Regions from separate parts of the Homo sapiens genome. Here region 2 is linked to region 1. A link means that fine-mapping ties the variant in region 1 to the expression of a gene that starts in the linked region. Tissue or cell type: whole blood. Region 1 holds a variant in brackets; the other region holds the start of a gene. Each region is shown on its reference strand, or each on the opposite one. Region 1 has its middle 19 kb from the start of TRMT10C. Region 2 holds the start of ZNF256 (zinc finger protein 256).

What was found. PIP is the estimated chance that this variant, and not a neighbour inherited with it, causes the effect.
Region 2: ZNF256 starts here. The variant in region 1 is the best candidate, but not a certain one, in a credible set for the expression of ZNF256 in whole blood (TOPMed, PIP 0.66).

Annotation. Positions count from the first base shown.
Region 1 is chr3:101,538,310-101,547,313 of GRCh38, reverse strand. No RefSeq gene overlaps it. Among named protein-coding and RNA genes, the nearest start is that of TRMT10C, 19 kb to the left of the region's middle. The variant T/C (reference allele first, on the strand shown) is at 4,599.
Region 2 is chr19:57,943,160-57,952,163 of GRCh38, reverse strand. ZNF256 (zinc finger protein 256) reads left to right here and starts at 4,458. Exons shown (of 3, transcript NM_005773.3): 1 at 4,458-4,722; 2 at 8,104-8,230. The coding sequence starts at 4,690. RefSeq lists enhancers at 4,220-4,309, 4,380-4,479, 4,970-5,049.

The DNA of each region.
Region 1 (9,004 bases):
CTATCATAATTTTGCAAAGGTTGTTGAAGGCCAGGCCTTTTTTGCTTTTTAAAACTTTAATGAAATGAAAGTCTTTGGACAACGACAGTCAGAGGCCAAACAAAAGAATTGTGCTGTACAGCAGGTACTCAAATAATATGGGTGTGGGTTTTCTCTTAGTACTCCAGTTTCCTTTCACAATCCAAAGATGTGCACATTAGGTTAATTGGCATGTGTACATTGTACCAATCAGAGTTAATTCAGGTGTGTGTGAGGGCACTGTGCAGTAGGATGATGTTCTGTTCAGGTCTGGTTTCTGCATTATGCCCTGAGCTGCTGGATAGACTCTGGCTATACCTGACCCTGAACTGGTGGAATAAATAGATTGGAAAATGAATGAAAGAGTTAATACAGATTATTGTAAAATAAAATTTGTAAATTATACAGTGATCATACAAAATGTATGACCATAAACAATGTGGTATGAAAGCGCTCAATGAGCCTGCCATGTTTGTGATTGTTATTGAACTGCATGGTGGGAGGAAGTGCTGTTTATGTCAGAGGCATTTGAACTAAAGCAACTCCATCTTTTTTTTTTTTTTTTTAAGACAGAGTTTTGCTTTTGTTGCCCAGGCTGGAGTGCAATGGCTCGATGTCAGCTCACCGCAACCTCTGCCTCCTGGGTTCAAGAGATTCTCCTGCCTCAGCCTCCAGAGTACCTGGGATTACAAGCATAGGCCACCATGCCTGGCTAATTTTTTTTGTATTTTTAGTAGAGACGGGGTTTCTCCATGTTGGTCAGGCTGGTCTCAAACTCCTGACCTCAGGTGATCCACCTGCCTCAGCCTCCCAAAGTGCTGGGATTACAGGCGTGAGCCACCATGCCTGGCCTGCAACTCCATCTTCTGTAGGGACTGGGTAAAATAAGGCTGAGACCTACTGGACTGCATTCCCAGGAGGTTAGGCATTCTTAGTCACAGGATGAGATAGGAGGTTGGCACAAGATACAGGTCACAAAGACATTGCTGGTAAAACAGCATGTGATAAAGAAGCCGACCAAAACCAAGATGGTGACCAAATTGACCTCTGATAATTCTCACTGTTCATTATATGCTAATTACAATGCATTAGGATGCTAAAAGACACTCGCATCAGCACCATGACAGTCTACAAATGCCATAGCAATGTTGGGAAGTTACCCTATATGGTCTAAAAAGGTGAGAAACGCTCAGTTCTGGGAATTGTCCTTTCCTGGAAAACTCATGAATAATCCACCCTATGTTTAGCATATAATAAAGAAATAACTATAAGTATTATCAGTTGAGCATTCCAAGCTGCTGCTCTGCCTATGCAGTAGCCATTATTTTGTTTCTTTACTTCTCTAATAAACTTGCTCTCAGTTTCTGGATTCGCTTCAAATTCTTTCTTGCATGAGATCCAATAACCCTCTCTTGGGGTCTGGTTTGGGACCCCTTTCCAGTAACCCCTTTCCAAAAACTTAACAGTTTTTGCTTTGCAAACGTTTATTTCTTGATTTAACCCAACACGCTTGTGACCTTCATCACTTACTGATTCACCAAAAGTTGGGCAATTATCTTGTTTTTATTAATCCTTTAAAAATGTATGTATAGCTCACATTTATTTCAGTGTTTAATATTAGATGTGTTTTTTCTCTTTATTTAGAAGTTTTGTAATGTTTTCGTTACTGGAAATATGCCTTAGGAACTTAACTCTTGTTTATATCAATTAGCCTAAGGTAAATTTGGTTTTATTATGCATTATTTAGCTTAAAGTCACAGCTTCAATAACCTATTGAGGAAAGAAAAATAGCTCAGAGCAGTCTCAGTTATGTGAGGTTTGCAAAATTTTTAAGCCCAGAGAAACATGAGTATGGGACTTTGGTCACATATACCCCCATTCTCATTGCTCCCCAACCCAGGCCCAGGGGTGTTTTTTTTTTTTGTTTTTTTTTTTTGTGACCGAGTCTTGCTCTGTCGCCCAGGCTGGAGTGCAGTGGTGTGATCTCAGATCACTGCAACCTCCGCCTCCTGGGTTCAAGCAATTCTCCTGCCTCAGCCTCCTGAGTAGCTGGGATTACAGGCGCCTGCCACCACGCCCAGTAATTTTTGTACTTTTAGTAGAGACAGGGTTTCACCATGTTGGTCAGACTGGTCTTGAACCCCTGACCTCGTGATCCACCCATCTTGGCCCCCCAAAGTGCTAGGATTACAGATGTGAGCCACCGTGCCCAGCTGCCAAGGGGTAATTGTTTAAAAGCATTTGTTCTCATGACTAGGTGCCTCACTTATTATTTTCATGCTCCTGCAATTTGAGATACAAAGAACAATGTATAGACGATCAATAGCATATGTTATTTTGATGTAAATTCTTGGTAAAAAATGTATGAACTGCCTCTTCCCTTTTGCTTTAAAAAGCCACTTGTAACTGCTGCTAATCAGAGTGTACATTTAGTACAACTTGAATCTATGATCCTGGGTAGCCATCCTTAAGCTTTGAGATCAGATAAACTATATTTAATCATATTTTCTGAATCTCATTATTTTAAGGTTGACACTATCTATGAAGTTAAATGAGGACTTACTGTGGTTTAATGCTTTGCAAAATTCATTGCTCTGTAATACCTTGGCTGCTTCCTCCTCTCTCTGCCTGAAGGTGGTGTCTTCTATTACCTGATTGCTCCAGGACTTAGGAAATGGTATATTATTGTTGGGAAAATACAATTAAAAGCAAAATCTTCCCAGCATTTTGGGAGGCCAAGGCAGGAGGATCACTAGAGCCCAGGAGTTCAAGACCAGCCTGGGCAACATAGTGAGACCCTGTCTCTCTTAAAAAAAAAAATCTCCCAACCCCAAAATCCTCTCCACAATGGTAGTAGAGATAGAAAACAGTTTCATTATTGAATGAGCATTAAACCACAATGTGATAGACATCATAGGCGACTCATTAAGAGATTGAAAAGACACAAGGAATCTCACCCCTTTATACTGACAAGCAGATGCAACCCATTACATGCATGTTTTCAAGAAAAACAAAAATAGGCTTCAAGTAAGAAAACTTGACAGCATATTTTGTCACATATAGTTCATCTTAAGTTTAGCATAATTGTTAGGAGGACCACCAGTGTTAGCTAATTGGTTTTATCCAAGTGAGAAGAAGCAAACTCCCTAAATCTTTTCATAAGGATATAGTTTTGAAGATTGGGCCAAGGCACCCTGCCCACCAAAATTCAGTTCTTACCCTCCCAGAAGAACTATGAGAGCTGTCTCCCTTGAATACGCATTTTGAAACATGACTCCCAGGTCCTAAATTGTGAGACTGAGAAGAGGTTTATTTAGCCATTATAAAGATGTAACATACATTTGAAAAGGACAGAGGATTAAATTCTGAAAGAAAAAGGAGAGGTCAGAGCTGTGCCTTCCCTTATTTCCACAGAAAAAAAAATTAAGTCTTTTACTTTTTTTTTTTTTTTTTTGAGTTAGAGTCTCACTCTGTCACCCAGGCTGGAGTGCAGTTGTGCAACCTCTGCTCACTGCAACCTTCACCTCCTGGGTTCAAGCAATTGTTGTGCCTCCGCCTCCTGAGTAGCTTGGATTACAGGCCCACACCACCATGCCCAGATAAATTTTGTATTTTTAGTAGAGATGGAGTTTCACCATGTTGGCCAGGCTGGTATCGAACTCCTGATCTCAGATGATCCGCCGGCCTCAGCCTCCAAAAGTGCTGGGATTACAGGTGTGAGCCACCATGCCCAGCCTGGGGCAATTATTTAAAAGGCATTTTATGCCTGACTAGCTACCTAAGCCATTATCTTCATGTTCCTAGAATTTGTGATACAAAGAAAAATGTATAGACAATCAGTAGTTTATTTTAATGTAAATACTTGCTAAATAATTTAGGAACTGACTCTTCTTTTCTGCTTTAAAAACCCACTGTTACTACTGCTAATTGAAGTGTATATTCAGGGCAACTTGAATGTATGCTCCTGGGTGGCCATCCTCAATCTTTGAGCTCTAGTAAACTCTATAGGTAATCATACTTTCTAAATCTTTTTATTTAAGGTTGACACATTATTGTAAAACAACAGGAAGATTGGTCTTATGAAATGCACCACTTCCTTTACTACAGGAGGAAAAGATAAATATTTCAGTTTGAGTCTTTGGGTGAACAAAACAGTGGTTTAGCTAACAACCTCCTTTTGTTGCTTTTCTCAGGGGTGGAACTATGGGGCTGATAATATCCATCATAACTCACACTTCATGTAAGGTAGATTCAACTTTCTCTTTTTTTTTTTTTTTTTTTTTTTGAGATGGAGTTTTGCTCTTGTTGCCCAGGCTGGAGTGCAATGGCATGATCTTGGCTCACCCCACAACCTCTGCCTCCCGGGTTCAAGTGATTCTCCTGCCTCAGCCTCCTGAGTAGGTGGGATTACAGGCCTGTGCCACCATGCCTGGCTAATTTTGTATTTTCAATTGAGATGGGGTTTCTCCATGTTGGTCAGGTTGGTCTCAAACTCCAACCTCAGGTGATCTGCCTGCCTCAGCCTCCCAAAGTGCTGGGATTACAGGCATGAGGCACTGTGCCTAGCCAGATCTAACTTT[T/C]TTAATGTAAACCAAAAATAAAATTATAAGCCCCCAACTGACTGATGGACCCTCCTCTTGGCCAAGGGCATTCCAAAATTAATCTGAAAAACTAGTTCAGGCCATGATGGGAAGTGGAGGGTGGTAAGTGTTAGACATGCCTCACACATGACCAACATTAACATAAACATAGAGACCTTAAGACTGATAGAACAGACTCCAAGTCTGATAAGAAACATCTATAATCTATTCTCTCTGAAGCCTGATACCTGGAGGCCTTATCTGCATGATGAAACCTTGGTCTCTACAACCCCTTATCATAACCCAGACATTTCTTTCTATTGATTCCAGGTCTTTAGATAATAACTCTTTAAACCAATTGCCAATCAGAAAATCTTTAAATTTCTAAAATGTATGACCTGGAAGATACCCACCCCCAAACCCCACTCCCAGTTGTCCCACCTTTCTGGACCAAACCAATGTACATCTTACATGTATTGATTAATGTCCTATGTCTCCCTAAAAGGTATAAAATCAAGTTGTAGCTCAAGTTGTAGGGCACATGTTCTCAGGACCTCCCAAGGGCTGTGTCACAGACCAACGGTCACTCGTATTTGTTTGTTTGTTTTTGAGAAAGGGTCTTGCTCTGTCACCCAGGCTGGAGAGCAGTGGTGTGATCTTGGCTCACTGCAGCTTCAACTTCTTGAGCTCAAGTGATCCTCCCTGCTCAGCCACCTGAGTAACTAGGACTACATGCATGCACCACCATGCCAAGCTAATTTTGCTTATTTTTTTTTAGAGATGATATCTGACTATGTTGCCCAGGCTGGTCTCAAACTCCTGCACTCAAGCTATCCTCCCATCTAGGCCTTCTAAAGTGCTGAGATTATAGGCATGAGACACCATGCCTGGCCAGTCACTTATATTTGTCTCAGAATAAATATCTTCAAATATTTGAGACTTATTTGACTCTTTTCTTTTTTTTTTTTCTTTCCGAGATGGAGTCTTGCTCTTTCACCCAGGCTGGAGTGCAGTGGCACGGTCTCGGCTCACTGCAACCTCCATCTCCTGGGTTCAAGCAATTCTCCTACCTCAGCTTCCCTAGTAGCTGGGATTACAGGCGTGCACTACCACGCCCAGCTAATTTTTGTATTTTTAGTAGAGATGGGGTTTCACCATGTTGGCCAGGCTGATCTCAAACTCCTGACTTCAAGTGTCTGCCCGCCTCGGCCACCCAAAGTGCTGGGATTACAGGCGTGAGCCACTGCACTTGGCCTATTTGACTCTTTTCATCAATATAACTGACAAGGATTGTTTCCTTGAACTAACTTTACTCAAGTTCCCAAAACTTCTCCTGAGCCCATCTGTGCACTTCTTTGTAAAATCCAATTTTAGGAATGTAGGCTTGCAGTTCCAAGATGGCCAAATAGGAACAGCTCCAGTCTACAGCTCCCAGCATGAGCGATGCAGAAGATGGGTGATTTCTGCATTTCCAACTGAGGTACCGGGTTCATCTCACTGGGGCTTGTTGGACAGTGGGTGCAGGACAGTTGGTGCAGCCCACCGAGTGTGAGCCAAAGCAGGGTGAGGCATCGCCTCACCCGGGAATTGCAAGGGGTCAGGGAATTCCCTTTCCTAGCCAAGGGAAGGGGTGACAGATAGCACCTTGAAAATCGGGTCACTCCCACCCCAATACTGCGCTTTTCCAATGGTCTTAGCAAACGGCACACCAGGAGATTATATCCCACAACTGGCTTGGAGGGTGCCACGCCCATGGAGCCTCGCTCATTGCTAGCACAGCAGTCTGAGATTGAACTGCAAGGCAGTAGCGAGGCTGGGGGAGGGGCGCCCGCCATTGCTGAGGCTTGAGTAGGTAAACAAAGTGGCCAGGAAGCTCAAACTCGGTGGAGCCCACCACAGCTCAAGGAGGCCTGCCTGCCTCTGTAGACTCCACCTCTGGGGGCAGGGCATAGCTGAACAAAAGGCATCAGAAACTTTTGCAGACTTAAATGTCCCTGTCTGACAGCTTTGAAGAGAGTAGTGGTTCTCCCAGCACGGAGTTTGAGATCTGAGAATGGACAGACTGCCTCCTCAAGTGGGTCCCTGACTCCCGAGTAGCCTAACTGGGAGGCACCTCCCATTAGGGGCCGACTAACACCTCACACAGTCGGGTGCCCTCTGAGACGAAGCTTCCAGATGAATGATCAGGCAGCAACATTTGCTGTTCTGCAGCCTCCACTGCTGATGCCCAGGCAAACAGGGTCTGGAGTGGACCTCCAGCAAAGTCCAACACACCTGCAGCTGAGGGTCCTGACTGTTAGAAGGAAAACTAACAAACAGAAAGGACATCCACACCAAAACCCCATCTGTACGTCACCATCATCAAAGACCAAAGGTAGATAAAACCACAAAGATGGGGAGAAACCAGAGCAGAAAAGCTGAAAATTCTAAAAATCTGAATGTCTCTTCTCCTCCAAAGGAATGCAGCTCCTTGCCAGCAACGGAACAAAGCTGGATGGAGAATGACTTTGATGAGTTGAGAAGAAGAAGGCTTCAGATGATCAAACTTCTCCGAGCTAAAGGAAGATGTTCGAACCCATCACAAAGAAGCTAAAAACCTTGAAAAAAGATTAGATGAACGGCTAACTAGAAAAACCAGTGTAGAGAAGTCCTTAAATGACCTGATGGAAATGAAAACCATGGCACGAGAACTACGAGATGCATGCACAAGCTTCAGTAGCCAATTCGATCAACTGGAAGAAAGGGTATCAGTGATTGAAGATCAAATGAATGAAATGAAGTTAGAAGAGAAGTTTAGAGAAAAAAGAGTAAAAAGAAATGAACGAAGCCTCCAAGAAATATGGGACTATGTGAAAAGACCAAAGCTACATCTGATTGGTGTACCTGAAAGTGACGGGGAAAATGAAGCCAAGTCGGAAAACACTCTTCAGGATATTATCCAGGAGAACTTCCCCAACCTAGCAAGGCAGGCCAACATTCAAATTCAGGAAATACAGAAAACACCACAAAGATACTCCTCGAGAAGAGCAACTCCAAGACACATAATTGTCAGATTCACTAAAGTTGAAATGAAGGAAAAAATGTTAAGGGCACCCAGAGAGAAAGGTCGGGTTACCCACAAAGGGAAGCCCATCAGACTAACAGCGGATCTCTCAGCAGAAACTCTACAAGCCAGAAGAGAGTGGAGGCCAATATTCAACACTCTTAAAGAAAAGAATTTTCAACCCAGAATTTCATATCCAGCCAAACTAAGCTTCATAAGTGAAGGAGAAATAAAATCCTTTACAGACAAGCAAATGCTGAGAGATTTTGTCACCACCAGGCCTGCCCTAAAAGAGCTCCTGAAGGAAGCACTAAACATGGAAAGGAACAACTGGTGCCAGGAACAAATGCAAAAACATGCCAAATTGTAAAGACCATCGAGAATAGGAAGAAACTGCATCAACTAACGGGCAAGATAACCCGCTAACATCATAATGACAGGATCAAATTCACACATAACAATATTAACCTTAAATGTAAATGGGCTAAATGCTCCAATTAAAAGACATACACTGGCAAATTGGATAAAGAGTCAAGACCCATCAGTGTGCTGTATACAGGAGACCCATCTCACCTGCAGAGGCTCAAAATAAAGGGATGGAGGAAGATCTACAAAACAAATGGAAAACAAAAAAAAGCAGGGGTTACAATCCTAGTCTCTGATAAAACAGACTTTAAACCAACAAAGATCAAGAGACAAAGAAGGCCATTACATAATAGTAAGGGGATCAAATCAACAAGAGGAGCTAACTATCCTAAATATATATGCTCCCAATACAGGAACACCCAGATTCATAAAACAAGTCCTTAGAGACCTACAAAGAGACTTAGACTCCCACATGATAATAAAGGGAGACTTTAACACCCCACTGTCAACATTAGACAGATCAACGAGACAGAAAGTTAACAAGGATATCCAGGAATTGAACTCAGCTCTGCACCAAGCAGACCTAATAGATATCTACAGAACTCTCCATCCCAAATCAAAAGAAGATACAGTCTTCTCAGCACCACATCACACTTATTCCAAAATTGACCACATAGTTGGAAGTAACGCACTCCTCAGCAAATGTAAAAGAACAGAAATTATAACAAACTGTCTCTCAGACCACAGTGCCATCAAACTAGAACTCAGGATTAAGAAACTCACTCAAAACTGCTCAACTACATGGAAACTGAACAACCTGCTCCTGAATGACTACTGGGTACATAACAAAATGAAGGCAGAAATAAAGATGTTCTTTGAAACCAATGAGAACAAAGACACAACATACCAGAATCTCTGGGAAACATTTAAAGCAGTGTGTAGAGGGAAATTTATAGCACTAAATGCCCACAAGAGAAAGCAGGAAAGATCTAAAATT
Region 2 (9,004 bases), not on the chromosome of region 1:
GGCTTCTTTGCTTATTAATACACATTGAAATTTCCTCCATGTCTCTGACAAAGATTTTTCACATCCTACTTTATGATAGTACATAAATAATAGAAAACAACATTTTGTTTTGTATTAGGAAAATAAACATGTATTGATTTGAGATTTGGTGGGTTTTCCCCCCAGTCGAAACTCAAAAATCCTGCAGATTTAGCAAATTTAGAAGGGATCCCTATTAATTGTGTGAAAGTTGATCATATGAATTGGGTCATTCTTGTCATACCCACCTAAAACAGAGTTGAAAGAGCTGTGGGAAAAAAAGCACTCAGGGCATATAACCCTGATCCAAAAATGTAATTCTCCAGAAGCCTGGCTGCTGAAACTCCCTGCTGTAACTTGAAACAAGTTTTATTTAATGGCTGCTGACAGGACACACTGCAACTCTAAAACTAGTTTTGTAACTGAACAGCCTGGCCTGAAAAAGTTTTTTTCCTTTTTCTCATTTTTCCCTAGTCTTGTGATATAACCTTGAACCTTACTGCAGAATCTTTTCTTCTCATTAGTCTTAAAATACAGCCTTGAAATGTACTTTCTTTGAAATACCATGTCCACCGCTTCTCACCATACACTCCCTTAGACCATGCACATTTGTCTAATTGTATGCTAGTATCTAATTATGTGCTTACTTAGAAGTTCCTGGGGATAATCTTGAGACAGACTTGGTAGGCATAGGGACCTATCTGCAAAATTCCAGAGATTACTTCAAGGCAGTTAGTCAACCACCAGGCCATTACTGAGATGCAGCTAGCCCACACTCCAGGTGGACCATGGCTTGAGACAGCCACCAGAACAAGACACGCAGACCTAGTACTCAGCACCCCTCCTGCACACCTCCCAGTCCAAGTTCACATCCTTGGACTCAAAAACTCCGTTTTGAGCGAAACTCCGTCTCAAAAAACAAACAAAAACCAAAACAAAAGAGTTCTGTGAGACCTTCACTTTTTTCACCATCCGATATTTCCCAAACACGATTCTGCCACCATTTTTGAATGACTACATAGTCATTATAATGGCAGCAGTGGCTGATCTGGAGGGGCCGCTGTGATGATGCCGGCTGCAAATGGGGAGGCACGGCCAGGGCTGCATGCTCCGTGGAGCCCACGGGGACTGGGAACAGGTGATCCCAGTGGGAGCCTCGAGCCATACCGAGTTGTCAGGACGGGAGCCCTGTGCTCCCAGGCGCAGCTGCAGCCACCTAGTCGTGGCTCCAGACAGGGCATCCCTGCACTCTTGGGGACCTGGGAAGCACCCTTTTCCCACAGGCCCAGAAGTGCCTGCTCCCACTCCCTGGCCTCTCCCCACTCTCAGCACCTGCTCCACGGCAGAGCAAAGTTGTGGACATGTCAAGATAGCCAAACCTGGGCGCTATCACAACCCAGCCAAATGTGTGTGCCCTCGGGGCAGTGACGACATGCCAGCCCCCCACCATCTCGATTTCCTCCAGAAACTGCTTTTGAGGCTGAAACTTTGGGCACCAAGAAGCATGGGAAGGAGGCCGGGTGGTGGGAGGGGGGCGGCTGAGAGTGGCTCGGGGCAGGCCTGCGGGCAACCTTCAGCATGGACAGCCTGGGCGTCATGGACAGCATGTTGATGGCCATGAAAGGCAGACAGGTTCCTACGTGGGAAGGGGTGGGTTTTCTGTGAAACCCCACCTTCAAGCCACGAATGGCCTGAAGCCTGGAGGCCACGCTGCCAGTTCCAGGTGGAGTCTGTGACCCAGAGAGAGAAATTCCTTGACGCCTTTCGGCCAATGGTATGGTGTTTTTCCCAGGCCCGCCCATGACTGCCCATGGGCCAATCAGCATGCACTTCCTACCACCCATGGACCAATGAGCACACACTTTCTCCATTCTGAGCCCATAAAAAACCTGTAGACTCAGCCAGACTCAGACATCGGAGACTATCTGTATGCAGGTGTGAGCTACTCCCTTCAGGTTTCCTGAGGGCTGTTGGGTTGTCCAATAAAACCCTTCTCTGCCTTGCTCACCCTCCAGTTGTCTGCATAACCTCATTCTTCCTGGACGTGGGATAAGAACTTGGGGGACAAGAACTTGGGACCTAACGAACAGCAGGAGAGAAAGGGGCTGTAACACATTCCTGGCTGAGTAGCCATGCTTCTGGGCTGCATGAGTGAAAAATGGCGACTCTTCTGGAGGCCCAGACTTTGGGATTCCCCGAGCCAGAGCTGTAACACTATAGCCCTCCTGCCCTCAGCCAGCACTGGGTGGCCGCCCCCCACGATGGGAAGCAGCAGCGAGCCAGAGCAGGGCAGCGGGACTGAAAGAGCTATATCACAAACAAGCTGAAAACACACCCCACCCAAAACACACCTCCCCGCTTGCCAGGCTGCAAGCAACGGGAAGGAGAGAAGAGCTGTGGCTCTTCCGGGAGCCCAGGCCTCGAGACTCCGGAGCCAGGGCTGTGACATGCTGCAACACCCTCTTTGGGGTTCTGCTGTTCTTGGTGTCTCCGAGCTTTCCGGCGCCACCATTTTTCCCTCGTCTAGATGCTGGTGCCTGCAGCAGAAGCCGCCTGCAGTATGTCTGGTCCAGTCGCAGACTTGCAAGGAGCCGGCGCCTGTGCCAGCGCCTGGAGCTGCCCGCCCCGCCGCAGCAGCCAGCGTGCCTGGCTGTGTGCACTGGCTGGACCCTTCACTTGCTCGCTCACACACCCCTTGCGGCTCCGCGCCTGGCTCGCCCTTGGTAGGTGTGGGATCCAGGTGCAGCCTGCTGGGCCGAGTGGGTGGAACAAGCCCAGCGGGTGTGAGCAAAACTCAAGCAGAGGCGCGACCACAGAGGTTTCTGGCTGGCGAAGCGACACCCATTATTAGTAGCTTTCTGTAATTTGTATTTTACAATTCTTTTTCTGATATCGTATCAATTTTTTATGCAGAACAGCCCTATAATAATGGGGGCAAAGGGCCGGGCACAGTGGCTCACGCCTGTAATCCCAGCACTTTGGGAGGCCGAGGTGGGTGGATCACCTGAGGTCAGGAGTTCGAGACCAGCCTGGCCAATATGGCGAAACTCCGTCTCTACTAAAAATACAAATACAAAAAAAAAAAAAAAAAAAAAAGATTAGCCGGGTACGGTGGCGGGCGCCTGTAATTCCAGCTACTTGGGAAGCTGAGGCAGGAGAATCGCTTGAACCCGGGAGACAGAGGTTGTGGTGAGCCGAGATCGCACCATTGCACTCCAGCCTGGGCAACAAGAGCGTAACTAATGGGGGCAAAGATAATCATTTCAGCGTTGAGAAGAGATCTTGAATTTAAGATACACCCTACATTTGGGATTCAGAGCACCCTTTGTTCCACCTGTTAATGCTCTAGCTAGCCATCATGCCTTTTCAAAATACCATTCCTTTTGTTGTTCTCTTTCTGAGCTTGATGTCAAATTATTAAAAAGAAGTGAATATAAAGGCATGGAGAAAGTGAGATTAGATTCATGCAAGTGTTGCTTAGTGAATTGGACACAATGTTTGACTACACAGGCACGAGAGGGACCCAGAGACAGGGATCTACTTATGTCCTGCTGCTGCAGGGTGCCTCCGCATCCCACCTTCATCCTCTTTGTCATGAACCTGTGTGGAGTGTTTTTTTTCTTGTCCCTAATCAAACATACAGAGACTGAGAAAACTGACTCCAGTGCTTGAGTGCATGCGTTTGAATTGCAACATAGTCTTTTTTTTTTTTTTTTTTTTTTTTTTTTTTTGAGACAGTGGCTCGCTCTTTCCCCCAGGCTGGAGTGCAGTGGCGCGATCTCGGCTCACTGCAAGCTCTGCCTCCCGGGTTCAAGCTATTTTCCTGCCTCAGCCTCCGGAGTAGCTGGGGACTACAGGCGCCCGCCACCACACCCAGCTAATTTTTCTTTTTTTTTTTTTTTTTGTGGTATTTTTTGTATTTTAGAGACGGGGTTTCGCTGAGTTAGCCAGGATGGTCTCGATCTCCTGACCTCGTGATCCGCCCGCCTCGACCTCCCAAAGTGCTGGAATTACAGGCGTGAGCCACCGCGCCCGGCCGCAACATAGTCATATTTATTTGCTTTCTCAACCAGTGGATATATTTTGTGACTGACTGACTGTATGTAATAATATGTGCATCTGGATATGTGCCTCTGGGAACACATGAAATGACACGTCTCCAAACAAACACTGGCAGACAGCAATCGGTAGAAACCTGGGTACGTCTCCTTTAAGAAAGAACGAAGCCTCGCCTCCGCCCCAACCTGGAGTGTCCATTTCCCAGCGCCCCCTACAGGGGTTTGGCCTTTACTTCCGGAAGGAGGTGGAGGCGACCCTCACTCTCCCGCCGTGCGCCTGTGGGAACATTACCCAGAATGGCCTGCGTTGGGCGACGGCGACCTTCAGCCAATGAGGCCTCCGAAAGGTGGTGTTTCCGTAAGCGCACGCGCGGTCGCGGCGGGACTTCCGTTGTCCTCCTTGTGGCGGTCGTTTTGGCATTTGTCTGGACTGATTACTTGGTAGAAAGCCCCGGAGCGCTGGGTCAGCATCATCCGTGACTGACTGAGAAGGCGCGAGAGGAGTCTTCCCCGCTGCACAGAGGCGTGGCTGAGGCTCGGCGGCGCCCAGGGTACCCAGGCCCGGCCCGGAATAAGGACATCCTCTCTGGCCCCGCTCCGCTCACAGAGTCAGATGGCGGCGGCCGAGCTGACGGCCCCGGCCCAGGTATGTGCCGCGTCCTCTGGGCCTTCCCCGCCCTCCCCACGCTAGTCCTAGCACCCCCGAGGGCGCTTGCTCGCGGCCCTGCTGCCCAGGACAGGACACGGGGGCTCGCCGGAGGGGCTCCCGTTTCCAACACCTGGTGTGCTAGGGAAGGGAGGGCGCGACTGGCAAGGAGCCCCTGATGAGAGGCGCCACTGAGCCCTGGGGCACAGAGGTGACACAGCCATTGCGAGGGCACCCGGCTCCAAGGCCAGGCATGGGGCTACGGGGTGGCTTGAGCCCATCTAATACCGCCATAGATGCTCTTCTCTGAGGCCTGGCTCTTTCTACGTTTCCCTTGGCTGTAAAGGGTTATGAAATCTACGCCAGGAAGGGGAGGGTTTCCCAGTCTCTCACTAGCCCTAACTCCCACCCACAGGTTCTCTGGGTTGTGGAGTGCCATTCCCCCAGCCCTTAGTTCTGAAGACCTTGGGTGAACCCCAAGCCCAGGGTCCTATGTCCATGTTAGCCGGTATATAGAGTTGTTCCAATTTCTGGCAGCCATGTGAACGGGTGTGGAAAGTTTTTCCAGAAAGGTACAAGATGTGCAAATGCTTAGGTGCAGTACGGAGCTGGGTGCATTTATGAAGCCACAAGTCTCCTTGCTTTCTGGTGGGAAGCAAAGAACAGGAGGATAGGCGTCAGGACTGCAGTGGCTGCCTGAGAAGTTGAGTGTGTTTTCAGGAGGTAATAGCAAGTTTGAATCAGAAAAAAGAGGTAATTTACCAAGGTCTTCACAGGCTTCATCTGTGTGCACAGTGGGGCACAAACTGGGGGGTTGAGGGAGGAGGAAGGAAAATCAGGGTAGACTAGTCCAAGTGAGGGTTACTGGCCCAGGATCGTGATTTAGGAGATGTGGTTAGATTCCGGATGTGTGGTTTCAAAAGGGACAACTAAATTACATAATGTAGGTGGTGAGGGAGTGAAACAGAGGGTTCAGAGAAGACTCCAGGGTTTTTGGTATTAGCAGCTGTAGGGAAAGAAGTTTCATCAACTAAGATGAACAAATTGGCAATAGGAGTAATATTCACTAGGGATATCAGGTTTGTTTATGCCATGCTAAGAGTCAGATCTTTCAGAGCCTACTAAATGGAGGCGTTAAGTGGGCAGATGAACGTGCCGGTCTTGAAATCTAGGGAGTGGTTCAGGGTGCAGATATTCAAGATGTGGCTGTTGTGCGCACCAAGGTTAGTGAGCTGTGGGTCACAGTTAGGCGGGGCAAGCTCCAGGTTTTGGTTGTAAAGCTGTTAGTGGGCCAAGACTGGGAGGATGATGATAGAGTAAGTGGTCATGAAGGCAAGGTATGTAAAAGACAGTGTAGTTTGGCAGTGGCCACGGCTCCCAAGAGAAGAATGGACATGAGATGGATGCAAACGCATAGGACACTCAGGCCAAAACTCGTGCTTATTCACCACTTTATGGGTATCCAGGATTTTGTGATAACTTGATGGGGCCTGGGTGTTTCATTCAGGCTGGAAGATTAAGTTAGTGTCATGTGGTCATTTGTGAGAGTCATTGTGTGTGAGATGAACGACCAGTGAGGCTGGGATTTAAATGAGCTTTAGGTGGATATATGACTCTCAAGGGGATGGTAAGTGCAGCACAGAAGTGGAATAGGGCCATGGTTATCTGTGATTCACCTGTGGTTCTGTGTGGCTATGTCTGAGGCAAGGAATACAGCCTGGCAGGGAGGCCTTCAAAGAAATTTTTGAGGCTGCTTCCACTAGTGTAAGCTGTGGGAAGTCTGGGATTTTGGATCCTGTTTATATCCACACTCTGGATGCTGCCTGCCAAGTTGCGGTATAAGGCCGGAAATTAAGGCCCAGTATGATATGTCGCCTTGACATCTGATGAAAACGATACAGCCTTAGATGGCCTGAGAACAAATTCCCCTTCCCACTTTGCTCCCATGAATAAGCTCTCTTAGCCAAATGAACCCTTCTTATCCATTCTTATCCAGGGAACCAGAACAGTTCCTGCTTATTACTTTGTAGTGGGTTTCAGTTCCCTATCAATTTTTTGAGTTATTCAAACAAGCCAGTCCCCTCCTCTGGGGACCAGTGGAGCTTCTCCATCTTGATGCTACAAAACTTACATTCTACAGCACCTGGTTGTTACTCTTTTCTGGAGTACTACCTCCGTATGGCCCTGTGTGGAGTGTGGTATTCTTTCACAGGCTATGAGTATTTGTCTTTAATTAATAAGCTGTTCAGCCAGGCGTGGTGGCTCACGCCTGTAATCCCAGCACTTTGGGAGGCCGAGGCGGGCAGCTCACAAGGTCAGGAGATCAAGACCATCCTGGCTAACACGGTGAAACCCCTTCTCTACTAAAAATATAAAAAATTAGCCAGGCGTGATGGCGGGTGCCTGTAGTCCCAGCTACTTGGGAGGCTAAGGTAGGAGAATGGCATGAACCCAGGAGGTGGAGCTTGCCCCACTGCACTCCAGCCTGGGCGACAGAGCAAGATTTCGTCTCAAAAAAAAAAAAAAAATTAATAAACTGTTGATCTCATTTGTCCAATGTCACGTGTCTTATATTTGGCTGTTGGTTATCCACTCTTTTTTTTTGTTCTTTGAGACGCAGTCTCGCTGTGTCACCACGCTGGAGTGCAGTGGCGTGATCTCGGCTCATTGCAACCTCCACCTCTCCACCTCCTGGGTTCTAGTGATTCTCCTGCCTCAGCCTCCTGAGTAGCTGGTACTACAGCCGTGTGCCACCACGCCTGGCTGATCTTTTGTATTTTTAGTAGAGATGGGGTTTCACCCTGTTAGCCAGGATGGTCTCCATCTCTTGACCTCGTGATCCGCCCACCTCGGCCTCCCAAAGTGCTGGGATTACAGGCATGAGCCACTGCACCCGGCCCAGGTTATCTACTCTTTCACTCAGGTAGCATGTGGGGAAGCCAGGATTTGCCTGTGGTATAGGACGTAGTGGTGGTCATGGTCATGTGGCAGTGGGATCTGGAGACCTGAGGTATGTGCAGTGTAATGAATGATATGCACTTGGAGAGGGAGTGTGCCTGATGGCCCCAGTGTCCTGATTGAGACTTACATGACCTTGGTCATATGAGAGGAATGCTTGTCAGGAAGGAGTGGTTGCCCTTATGCCACGCCCACAGCTTAGATACATGTATTTGTTCACCTGCCTCTTGTTACTGATGGCTGCAACCAGTGACCAAGAGCCCCATTAGGAGACAACAGCACCAGCTGACTGCTTTCTCCTCTGAGCTGGGGAGCTTGGAGAGCTTGGAAAGAGGATGAGCATGGGGTAAATGTGTGAGGGGAAGGATTATGGATCCTGAGAGGAGGAACCGTTTGTGGTTTCATGTGTCCCCATCCTGGCAGGGCATTGTGACCTTTGAGGACGTGGCTGTTTACTTCTCCTGGAAGGAGTGGGGTCTTCTTGATGAGGCTCAGAAATGCCTGTACCACGATGTGATGCTGGAGAACTTGACACTTACAACCTCCCTGGGTAAGGTCCTCACACCCACCTCTATGCCCCGAGCTAGCCTTTGCTCTTACCCTTTCCCCAGAGTCAGATGTGTCTTCACAAGAGGACTATTGACACAGCTTCCTGTTCCTGGGCAGGTGCTGCGGTTGGTAGGGCTAAGGTTGTATGTTGCCTGCTTTTCTCCTTGAGCAAGCAACACCTGCTTCCCTTTCATGTGGAAAGATTCAGAGTTAGGCTTCTTATAGTCGGCCTCATGGATCTCACCTCGTTTGCCTCTCCTGGCCAGGTGACATTGTCCAGATTCGAGGCTCCTCAAGGCCCAGGTTCTACTTCCTTCCTCTAGGGGACACTTCCTCATGCCTGCCTCTGCCAGCAATTATCATCACTGACATTGTCACCACTTATGTGGACTACGAGTGGCTCTTGCAAAATCCTCCTCTGAATTTCTCCTTGTATTATTATTTTTTTTCCTGTAGGCTATCATGTGCAGAGTCATTCTGGGCTGGTCTTGGGTGCTTGCATATTCCAAGTTCCGTGTTCTTGATTGTAGGGGTCAGATGGACAGGCCCTGTGGTTCTGAGGATGGCTGTGATTCCCCACAGCAAGATGGACTCAGAGGGAGCCTGGCCCTAGGGACTAACACCTAAAGGAGGACATTCTATAAGGGTTATGTTCACATCATACCAGAAACATATCCTGTTTGACTAATATTTTGGTGCTAATGACATTTGGGGCCAAACCTCATTACTGCCTTTTCTTTCCCATTCTTGATACTTAGCTTGCTTGTCAGCTGTC